Regions from separate parts of the Homo sapiens genome. Here region 2 is linked to region 1. Evidence: fine-mapped expression QTL. A gene starts in region 1. The other region holds a variant in brackets. All regions are shown on one strand. Distances are between the middles of the regions.

Evidence for each region. PIP is the estimated chance that this variant, and not a neighbour inherited with it, causes the effect. A credible set is the group of variants that fine-mapping cannot tell apart.
Region 2: its variant is the best candidate, but not a certain one, in a credible set for the expression of NCBP2AS2 in whole blood (INTERVAL, PIP 0.86).

What each region holds. Positions count from the first base shown.
Region 1 is chr3:196,939,971-196,945,490 of GRCh38, forward strand. NCBP2AS2 (NCBP2 antisense 2 (head to head)) reads left to right here and starts at 2,704. Exons shown (of 1, transcript NM_001355243.2): 1 at 2,704-3,573. The coding sequence starts at 2,747. The coding sequence ends at 3,046. NCBP2 (nuclear cap binding protein subunit 2) reads right to left here and starts at 2,558. Exons shown (of 4, transcript NM_007362.5): 1 at 2,456-2,558. The coding sequence starts at 2,533. It overlaps NCBP2-AS1 (NCBP2 antisense RNA 1), which reads left to right. Exons shown (of 3, transcript NR_046630.1): 1 at 1-157; 2 at 1,004-1,172; 3 at 2,423-2,564. RefSeq lists enhancers at 1,890-2,563, 2,022-2,261, 2,292-2,431, 2,482-2,781, 2,564-3,237 and 2 more.
Region 2 is chr3:196,906,533-196,911,532 of GRCh38, forward strand. All of the region lies in intron 6 of SENP5 (SUMO specific peptidase 5), which reads left to right. Among named protein-coding and RNA genes, the nearest start is that of NCBP2-AS1, 31 kb to the right of the region's middle. The variant G/T (reference allele first, on the strand shown) is at 2,871.

The DNA.
Region 1 (5,520 bases):
TAATGGGCTTCCAAATTGGGATGACAGGATGAAGCCAGAGACTTAAGCATATAACTGGGCTTCATCCAACACACCTGACAGACAAAGCCCTGGGTCCAAAATGGCTCATCGGGGTCAGGCGCGGTGGCTCATGCCTGTAATCCCAGCACTTTGGGAGGCTGAGGCGAGTGGATCGCCTGAGGTCAAGAGTTTGAGACCAGCCTGGCTAACATAGTGAATGAAACCCTGTCTCTACTAAAAATACAAAAATTAGCTGGGCATGGTAGCAGCGGGCGCCTGTAATCCCAGCTACTCGGGAGGCTGAAGCAGGAGAATCGCTTGAACCTGGGAGGTGGAGGTTGCAGGGAGCTGAGATTGCACCACTGCACTTGAGCCTGGACAACAAGAGTGAAACTCTATCTCAAAAAAAAAAAGTCCACAGGACAATAGTCATTGTATGTTAAAAAGAGGTTTTCGGAACTTTGGAGTGAGACATTAGAGAAAGTAAATTCCTTTCATTTTACTGCTGTTACTGATTTGTGAACATGGAAAGGAGGCATCTTCTTTTTCTACTTTTCTCACACATGTAAGTAAGATCCAAATAAATAGCCTACAGTTTAAGATAACTGTGGTGTAAGTGCTTAAAGTATATTAATATGGATTCCATTCACAGAATGCTAGAAATTCCACATGACAGTATGGCATTAGCATCTAAAAAAAGCTACAGGTTTAGACTGAGGAGATGAATAATAGACAAAGTCAGAAGGTTCCAGTTTTCATCTCACAGGATGCTTTAAGTTCAAAATGGTCAGGATGTGGAACTGTCTAAAGTAGTAACTAAAAGTGGTAGAAGTGCAAATCATGCCTGGCACTTAGGCATCCCAGCACTTTGGGAAGCCCCAGGCAGGTGGATCGCTTGAGTCCCAGAGTTCGAGACTGGCCTGAGCAACACAGGGAGACCCTGTCTCTACAAAAAATTAGCTGGATGTGGTGGCGCGAGCCTGTGGTCCCAGCTTCTCAGGAGGCTGAGGTGGGTAGGATCACTTAGGCTCAGGAGGTTGAGGCTGCGTGAGCCGTGATTGCGCCACTGCACTTCAGCCTAGGCAATAAAGCGAGACTCTGTCTCAAAAAATAAAATACATTAACTGAATAAATTTTTTTTTTTTGAGAAGGAATATCGCTCTGTTGCCCAGGCTGGAGTGCAGTGGCGCGATCTCACAGCAACCTCCACCTCCCCGGTTCAAGCGATTCTCCTGCCTCAGCCTCCCGAATAGCTGGGATTACAAGCGCCTGCCACCACGCCCGCCTAATTTTTGTATTTTTAGTAAGACGGGGTTTCACCATCTTGGCCAGGCTAGTCTTGAACTCCTAACCTCGTGATCCACCCGCCTCAGCCTCCCAAAGTGCTGGGATTACAGGCGTGAGCCACCGTTCCCAGCCTTGACTAAATAAATCTAAGAGCTTCCCTAATTTAGCGTCAAACAAAATTTCCCTTTCCCTACTCTAGTAACACATTTCACACATTCTCCACACTTACCCTCTGCTATATGCGCCCCTTCCTTTCCCAGTCACAAGGGGATTTTTCCCTTTTCTGAATCCTCACTACAGGGGATTATGAGCTCGCAGAGCGCAGAAACTGTCTTCCCTCTCCCTCTAGGGTTTAGCACAAGGATTTGGCGACAGCACTCGATAAACGTTTACTAAATAATTGGGTTAATGAGTCCCGCCCCGCCAACCCCCAACCGTATTCCATCCCTACCTCCGCTGATACTGAAAAGTCTACTTTGAATATCTGCTGCCTCCCCTTTTTCCACAAAATATACTGTGATATAGTCCGGACTAAAAATTTCCCTCTTCTGAAATCCAGCAATTCTCCGATCTTTACATCCGAACACCCTCAAAGTGCCGAGCTTGGCGGGTCCACCTCCCCACTCCGAAGCTTCCCCGAGGGCGGAGTGAGGACTCCACTTGTGTCTCCCACGCACCGCGTACAGCTTCCGTAACACCATCCTCCCAGAGAAGGGGCCCGAATCGCCGAAGGGCACTGCTTCGCCGATTTAAAAAACAAAGCAAAAAGCCCCGCATCTGCATCAGGAAGGCGCCTCTGCCTACTCTGGGAGAGAGAAGGGCACCCCTCCCCCTTGCTACGTAGTCGTCTGCGGAGGCACAACCGTGGAAACGGGAGCCGCCACCACCACCACCGCTCAAACCTCTCGGCACTGGCTGGGGTACAGGGAGCGGCTGCGAGCGAATGGGATAAGCGAGCCTCCAGTTCCCCGTCTTCCAGAGCAAGTGGCTTCAGTGATATCCAAGCGCCCTTCCAGCACCCATTCCCTGCCTCGCCAGCAGGCACCGGGGCCCCACTTGGCGTTTGCGGATTTCAGCTGAATGGGAGGCGACACAATGAGACAAGAGCAAACCGTTTCTCAGCGTTCTTGCCCAGGGCCTTCCCGTCTCGCGGCCCGGCCTCCCTCACCCGGAAGTGCTGGTCCCGGTACTGGCTCAGCTCCACGTAGGAGTCGCTGCGCAGCGCCTTCAGGAGGCCACCCGACATAGTGCAGAGAAGCGGACCACAATGCGGCGACTCCCGGCACGAGGCTGCGTCCGCGATGGCGGAAGCGGAAACGCGCGGAGGCGAGCATCTCATTGGACCCAATCCGAGGGCGGCGTGTCGTCATCAAGCTGCGCGGGGGCATAGACGTCCGGGTCGGGCGCCGCGGGGCGGAAGACGAGGGCGGCGAGGTCGGGTTCCGGGCGCTTGGAGAAGATGGTGCTGCGGCGGCTGCTGGCCGCCCTGCTGCACAGCCCGCAGCTGGTGGAACGTCTGTCAGAGTCGCGGCCTATCCGACGTGCGGCGCAGCTCACGGCCTTCGCACTGCTGCAGGCCCAGCTGCGGGGCCAGGACGCGGCCCGCCGCCTGCAGGACCTCGCGGCTGGGCCCGTGGGCTCCCTGTGCCGCCGCGCTGAGCGATTTAGAGACGCCTTCACCCAGGAGCTACGCCGCGGCCTCCGAGGCCGCTCGGGGCCACCACCAGGTAGCCAGAGGGGCCCTGGCGCAAACATTTAATCCTGGGCTGTGCGGGGCCGAGGCCGCTTGCTTTTCCTTCCGGGCTCTACAGTGGCATCAATGTGGAGGGGTCATTCCGGGCACTGCGCGCGGCTTCGAATCCCGACTGGGATTGTTGGCCTGCAGACATCCCACGCATAAGAGCCTAGGCCAGACCGCCCGCTCCGTTGAAGTCTTGTGATTGGACAAGACACAGTGTGGAGACAGCCCTAAGCCTAACAGAGATGAAGGTAGGCTGGGTCCAGACACGGCACCTACGGAGAGCCACGGACCGAAGCCAGAGAGCCTTTCCTCTGCAAGTGGGACTGAAACTCTTGACAGATGCTGCTCAATCTGACTGGTATAGCAGGACAGTTAATTCCAGGGACGATATGGATGAAAAGACAACCCTACAGCTGCCAAATTCCTTTGATTAAATGTGTGAGCTGGTTGATAGGCATGAGTGTGATACTTCTCAGGCAAGATGTGTTAAGAATACCGGGGACTGTAGGCCTATGGTAATAATAAACACGTATTTTATGAAATGAGTCTTCTGTGCTGGGACTTGCTCATTGCACTCTATGTGTTATCTCACTCCTTACAACGACATTCACATGAGGAAGCAGATTACTTTTTGGATTTTTTTGTAGAGATGGGGTGGTCTCGAACTCTTGGGCGCAAGTGATCCTCCCGCCTCAGCCTCCCAAAGTGCTGGGATTATAGGCAAGAGCCACTGCGATGGAAACAGAGGCTGCTGCTTAAGTTGCCCAAAGTCTTGCAGAGTGGGATGTGAGCAGAGGCATTTGACTCCAGGGCCTAAGTCCTTAACACAGCTCTGCAGCATTTACCCTGATACTCAACCCCTTCCTTCCCCAACCCCCCACCATCAGGCATTAAGACTACTGCCTAGGGGCAGGGCCTGGTGGCAGTTGTGTCTTATCCCAGCCACTGCAGAGGCAGGAGGATCGCATGAGCCTGAGATGAGACCAGCCTGGGTAGCATAGCGAGAACCTTTCTCAAAAAAAAAAAAAAAAAAAAAAAAGACTACTGCCTGCCATGGAACAAGTTACCTGGACTCCTATCCTGTGGGGAAAAGAGAGATCAGATTGTTACTGTGTCTGTGTAGAAAGAAGTAGACATAGGAGACTCCATTTTGTTCTGTACTGAGAAAAATTCTTCTGCCTTGAGATGCTGTTAATCTGTAACCCCACCCCCAACCCCCTGCTCTCTGAAACATGTGCTGTGTCCACTCAGGGTTAAATGGATTAAGGGCGGTGCAAGATGTGCTTTGTTAAACAGATGCTTGAAGGCAGCATGCTCGTTAAGAGTCATCACCACTCCCTAATCTCAAGTACCGAGGGACACAAACACTGCGGAAGCCCACAGGGACCTCTGCCTAGGAAAGCCAGGTATTGTCCAAGGTTTCTCCCCATGTGATAGTCTGAAATATGGCCTCGTGGGAAGGGAAAGACCTGACCGTCCCTCACAGCGTGACACCCGTAAAGGGTCTGTGCTGAGAAGGATTAGTGAAAGAAGAAGGAACGCCTCTTTGCCGTTGAAACAAGAGGAAGGCATCTGTCTCCTGCCCGTCCCTGGGCAATGGTGTAAAACCCGATTGTATGTTCCATCTACTGAGTTAGGGGAAAACCGCCTTAGGGCTGGAGGTGGGACATGGGGGCAGCAATACTGCTCTGTAAGGCATTGAGATGTTTATGTGTATGCATATCTAAAGCACAGCACTTAGTTCTTTACCTTGTCTATGACACAGAGACCTTTGTTCACGTGTTTATCTGCTGACCTTCTCTCCACTATTATCTTATGACCCTGACACATCCCCCTCTCCGAGAAACACCCAAGAATGATGAATAAATACTAAGGGAACTCAGAGGCCGGCGGGATCCTCGTCTGCTGAATGCCGGCCCCCTGGGCTCCCTTTTTTCTTTCTCTATACTTTGTGTCTCTTTCTTTTCCAAGTCTCTCCTTCCACCTAACGAGAAACACCCACAGGTGTGGAGGGGCAACCCACCCCTTCACTACCCCTCATTTTAGAGGGTCAGGGATACAGACAGACTACGATCCAGCCAGTTAGCAGACCTGCGATTAGGAAATCCATTGTATATAGAAATGTCCTGTCATTTGAAGCTCCTAGCTAAATTTCTGATTTTTTTTTTGAGACAGGACCTAACTCTTGCCCAGGCTGGAGTGCAGTGGCACAATACTAGCTGTCACTGCAACCTCGACCCGTTGGGCCAAGCGATCTTCCTCCCTGGGACTCCCAAGTAGCTGGGATTACGGGCCCATGACACTATGCCCAGCTAATTAAAAACTTTTTTTCTGTTTTTTTTGTTTTTTTGAGACGGAGCCTTACTCTGTCACCAGGCTGGAGTGCAGTGGTGCGATCTCGGCTCACTGCAACCTCCACCTCCCGGGTTCAAGTGATTCCCCTGCCTCATCCTCCTGAGCAGCTGGGACTACAGGTGCGTGCCACCATGCCT
Region 2 (5,000 bases), 34 kb before region 1:
GGGTAAGGGAATGTTTCTCATAGGAAGTAATATTTAAGCAGAAATATCAAAGATGAATACAAGTTAACTAGGTAAATGGAGAATAGGGGTATGTGAAACATAGGCAGAAGGAATAAGTATCTGGTAGAAGAATGGGAAAAGGCTAGTGTAGCTGAAATGCAGAGAGTTAAGAAGACAGTGGCATGAAGTGTACCTGATCCACAGATCAGGGCCTTGAGGTTTGTATTTTGGATTTTATCCTAAATGTAATAGGAAACCATTGAATGGTTTTTAGTGACATTATCCACTTTGTAGTCTTTGTTCTAACAGTACTGAAGAAGATGGATGGGTATGGGAGCAAAGTTGATGTGGGCAGAACAGGAGACCATTTCAGATTCATGGTACTTTGAAGTAGAATGATAGCAGGAGAGATGGAAGATGAGTGTGATGTAGGAAGTAAAATTAACAGGATTTGGTGATAAGTTGGTTATGGAGATGAAGGACAAGGAAGTGTGAAAGATGACTTCCAAGTATGTGACTTGTATGACTGGACGGCCTATGGTTGTATTTACATTAGAAAAATGTAGGACAACTAGTAGAGGATTGTTCAAATTTAAAATGTACAGTCATATAATTGGATGCTACTTAAGCAGGAAAAGCTGTGTAGATAATGAACGATGGGCCGGGCACAGTGGCTCACATCAGTAATCCCAGCACTTTGAGGGGCCGAGGCAGGCGGATCACGAGGTCAGGAGATAGAGACCATCCTGGCTAACACGGTGAAACCCCATCTCTATTAAAAATACAAAAAAATTAGCCGGGCGTGGTGACGGATGCCTGTAGTCCCACTTACTCAGGAGACTGAACCCAGGAGGCGGAGCTTGCAGTGAGCCAAGATCGCACCACTGCACTCCAGCCTGGGCGACAGAGAGACTCCGTCTCAAAAAAAAAAAAAAAAGATAATGGAAGATGCTTATATTCCATTTGGGGTGGGAAAAATTACAAGCAGTGTGGGCAAAAAATATACATTCATGGAAAAGTATCTGAATGATAAACATGAGAGTGAAAGAATAAAGTCAAATATGTGAGTTGTTTCATTAAATAATAAACTAAATTATTCCTTCCTCTAGATCAGGGGTGTCCAATCTTTTGGCTTCCCTGAGCCTCACTGGAAGAAGAAGAGTTGTCTTGGGCCACACATAAAATACACCAACACTAACAATAGCTGATGAGCTAAAACAAAAAAAATTGCAAAAAAGATCTCATAAAAGAAAGTCTACAAATTTGTGTTCGGCTGCATTCAGAGCCGTCCTGGGCTGCATGCTGCCCGTGGGCTGTGGACTGGACAAGCTTGCTGTAGATCCTCTGAGATTGGGTTAAGTAAAAAAAAAAAAAACCCAGGTTTATGCTGAATATAAGAAGTATACATAAAATAATATGAAAAAGAAAGGTTGAAAATGAAGTGACATTTAAAGAGGCTGGGCGCTGTGTCTCACATCTGCAGTCTGAACACTTTGGGAGGCCTAAAATTACTGTAGATGGGAGGATTGCTTGAGCCCAAGAGTTTCAAATCAGCCTAGGCAACCAAGCGAGACCCCGTTTCTATAAAAAATTTAAAAAACTTAGCTGGCCATGGTGGCAGCCTGTGGTCCCAGTTATCCAGAAGGCTGCGGTGGGAGGATCACTTGAGCCTGGGAGGTCGAGGCTGCAGTGAACCCTGATCACGCCACTGCACTCCTGCCTGGGTGACAGACTGAGACCTTGTCTCAATTTAAAACAAATAAAAAAGGCAACTACAGGAAAGTTAAACAACCTGTTCCTGAATAACTCCTGGGTAAATAAAGAAATTAAGGCAGAAATCAAGAAGTTCTTTGAAACCAATGAGAACAGAGAGACAATGTACCAGAATCTCTGGGACACAGCTAAAGCAGTGTTAAGAGGGAAGTTTATAGCACTAAATGCCCACATCGAAAAGCTGGAAAGATCTCAGATCAACATCCTGACATCACAATTAAAAGAACTAGAGAAGCGGCTGGGCGTGGTGACTCATGCCTGTAATCCCAGCACTTTGGGAGGCTGAGGCGGGTAGATCACCTGAGGTCAGGAGTTTGAGATGAGCCTGACCAACATGGAGAAACCCCATCTCTACTAAAAATACAAAATTGGCTGGGTGTGGTGGCACATGCCTGTAATCCCAGCTACTTGGGAGGCCGAGGTAGGAGAATCACTTGAACCCGGGAGGTGGAGGTTGTGGTGAGCTGAGATTGCGCCATTGCACTCCAGCCTGGGCAAGAAGAGTGAAACTCTGTCTCAAAACAAACAAACAAAAACAACAACAAGGAAATAGAGAAGCAAGAGCAAACAAATCCAAAAGCTAGCAGAAAACAAGAAATAACTAAGATCAGAGCAGAACTGAAGGAGATAGAAACACAAAAAAACCCTTCAAAAAATCAGTGAATCCAGGAGCTGGATTTTTTGAAAAAATTAACAAAAAATACCTCTAGCTAAACTAAAGAAGAAAAGAGAGAAGAATCAAATAGACACAATAAAAAATGATAAAGGGGATATCACCATTGACCCCACAGAAATATACAAATTACTATCAGAGAATACTATAAAGACCTCTACACAAATAAACTAGAAAATCTAGAAGAAACGGATAAATTCCTGGACACATACACCTTCCCAAGACTAAATCAGGAAGAAGTGGAATGTCTGAATAGACCAATAACAAATTCTGAAATTGAGGCAGTAATTAATAGCCTACCAACCACAAAAAGCCCAGGACCAGATGGATTCACAGCCAAATTCTACCAGAGGTACAAAGAGGAGCTGATACCATTCCTTCTGAAACTATTTCATAACAATTGAAAAGGAGGAACTCCTCCCTA[G/T]CTCATTTTATGAGGCCGGCATCATCCTGATACCAAAACCTGGCAGAGACACAAAAAAAGAAAATTTCAGGCCAATATCCCTGATGAACATCGGTGCGAAAAATTCTCAATAAAATGCTGGCAAACCAAATCCAGCAGCACATCAAAAAGCTTATCCACCATGATCAAGTTGGCTTCATCCCTGGGATGCAAGGCTGATTCAACATATGCAAATCAGTAAACATAATCCGTCATATAAACAGAACCAGTGACGAAAACCACATGATTATTTCAGTAGATGCAGAAAAGACCTTCGATAAAATTCAGCATCCCTTCATTTAAAAACTCTCAATAAACTAGGTATTCATCAAACATATCTCAATAATAAGAGCTATTTATGACAAACCCATAGCCAATATCAGTGGGCAAAAGCTGGAAACATTCCCTTTGAAAACTGGCACAAGACAAGGATGCCCTCTCCCATCACTTCTATTCAACATAATATTGGAAGTTCTGGCCAGGGCAATCAGGCAAGAGAAAGAAATACAGGGTATTCAGATAGAAAGAGAGGAAGTCAAATTGTCTCTTGCAGATGGCATGATTCTATATTTAGAAAATGCCATCGTCTCAGCCCCAAAACCCCTTACGTTGATAAGAAACTTTAGCAAAGTCTCAGGATACAAAATCAATGTGCAGAAATCACAAGCATTCCTATACGCCAGCAATGGACAAGCAGAGAGCCAAATCATGAATGAACCCCCATTCACAATTGCTACAAAGAGAATAAAATACCTAGGAATACAGTTTATAAGGGATGTGAAGGACCTCTTCAAGGAGAACTACAAACCACTGCTCAAGGAAGTAAGAGAGGACACAAACAAATGGAAAAATATTCCATCCTCGTGGATAGGAAGAACCAGTATCTTGAAAATGGCCATACTGCCCAAAGTAATCTTTTTTTTTTTTTTTTTTTTTTTTTTTTTGAGATGGAGTCTCGCTCCATTGCCCAGGCTGGAATGCAGTGGCATGATCGTGGCTCACTGCAACCTCCACTTCCCGGGTTCAAGCAATTCTCCTGCCTCAGCCTCCCGAGTAGGTGGGACTACAGGCATGCACCACCATGCCCAGCTAATTTTTTGTATTTTTAGTAGACACAGGGTTTCGCCGTGTTAGCCAGGATGGTCTCGATGTCCTGACCTCGTGATCCGCCTGCCTCGGCCTTCCAGAGTGCTGGGATTATAGATGTGAGCCACCACTCCTGGCTGCCCAAAGTAATTAATAGATTTAATGCTATTCCCATCAAACTACCATTGGCATTCTTCACAGAATTAGAAAAAACTACTTTAAAATTCATATGGAAACAAAAAAGAGCCTGTATAGCCAAGACAATCCTAAGCAAAAAGAACAAAGCTGTAGGCATCACATACCTAACTTCAAACTATACTACAAGGCTACAGTAGCCAAAACAACGTGGTATTGGTACCAAAACAGGCATATAGACCAATGGAACAGAACAGAGACCTCAGAAATAACACCACACATACACAACCATCTCATCATTGACAAACCCGACAAAAGCAATGGGGAAAGGATTCCCTATTTAATAAATGATGCTGGGAAAACTGGCTAGCCATATGCAGAAAACTGAAACTGGACCCCTTCCTTACACCTTATACAAAAATTAACTCAAGATGAATTAAAGACTTAATTGTAAAACACAAAATCGTAAAAACCCTAGAAGAAAACCTAGGCAGTACCATTCAGGACATAGGCGTGGGCAAAGACTTCATGACAAAAACACCAAAAGCAATTGCAGCAAAAGCCAACATGGATTCTAATTAAACTAAAGAGTTTCTGCTCAGCAAAAGAAACTATCATCAGAGTGAACAGGCAACCTATAGAATTGGATAAAATTTTTGCAGTCTACCCACCTGACAAAGATCTAATATCCAGAATCTACAAGGAACTTAAGCAGATTTACAAGAAAAATAAACCATCAGAAAGTGGGCAAAGGATATGAACAGACACTTCGCAAAAGAAGACATTTATGTCTGTAGTCTCAGCTACTCGAGAGGCTGAGACAGGAGAATTGCTTGACCTGGGAAGTGGAAGTTGCAGTGAGCCAAGATTGCGCCACTGCACTCCAGCCTG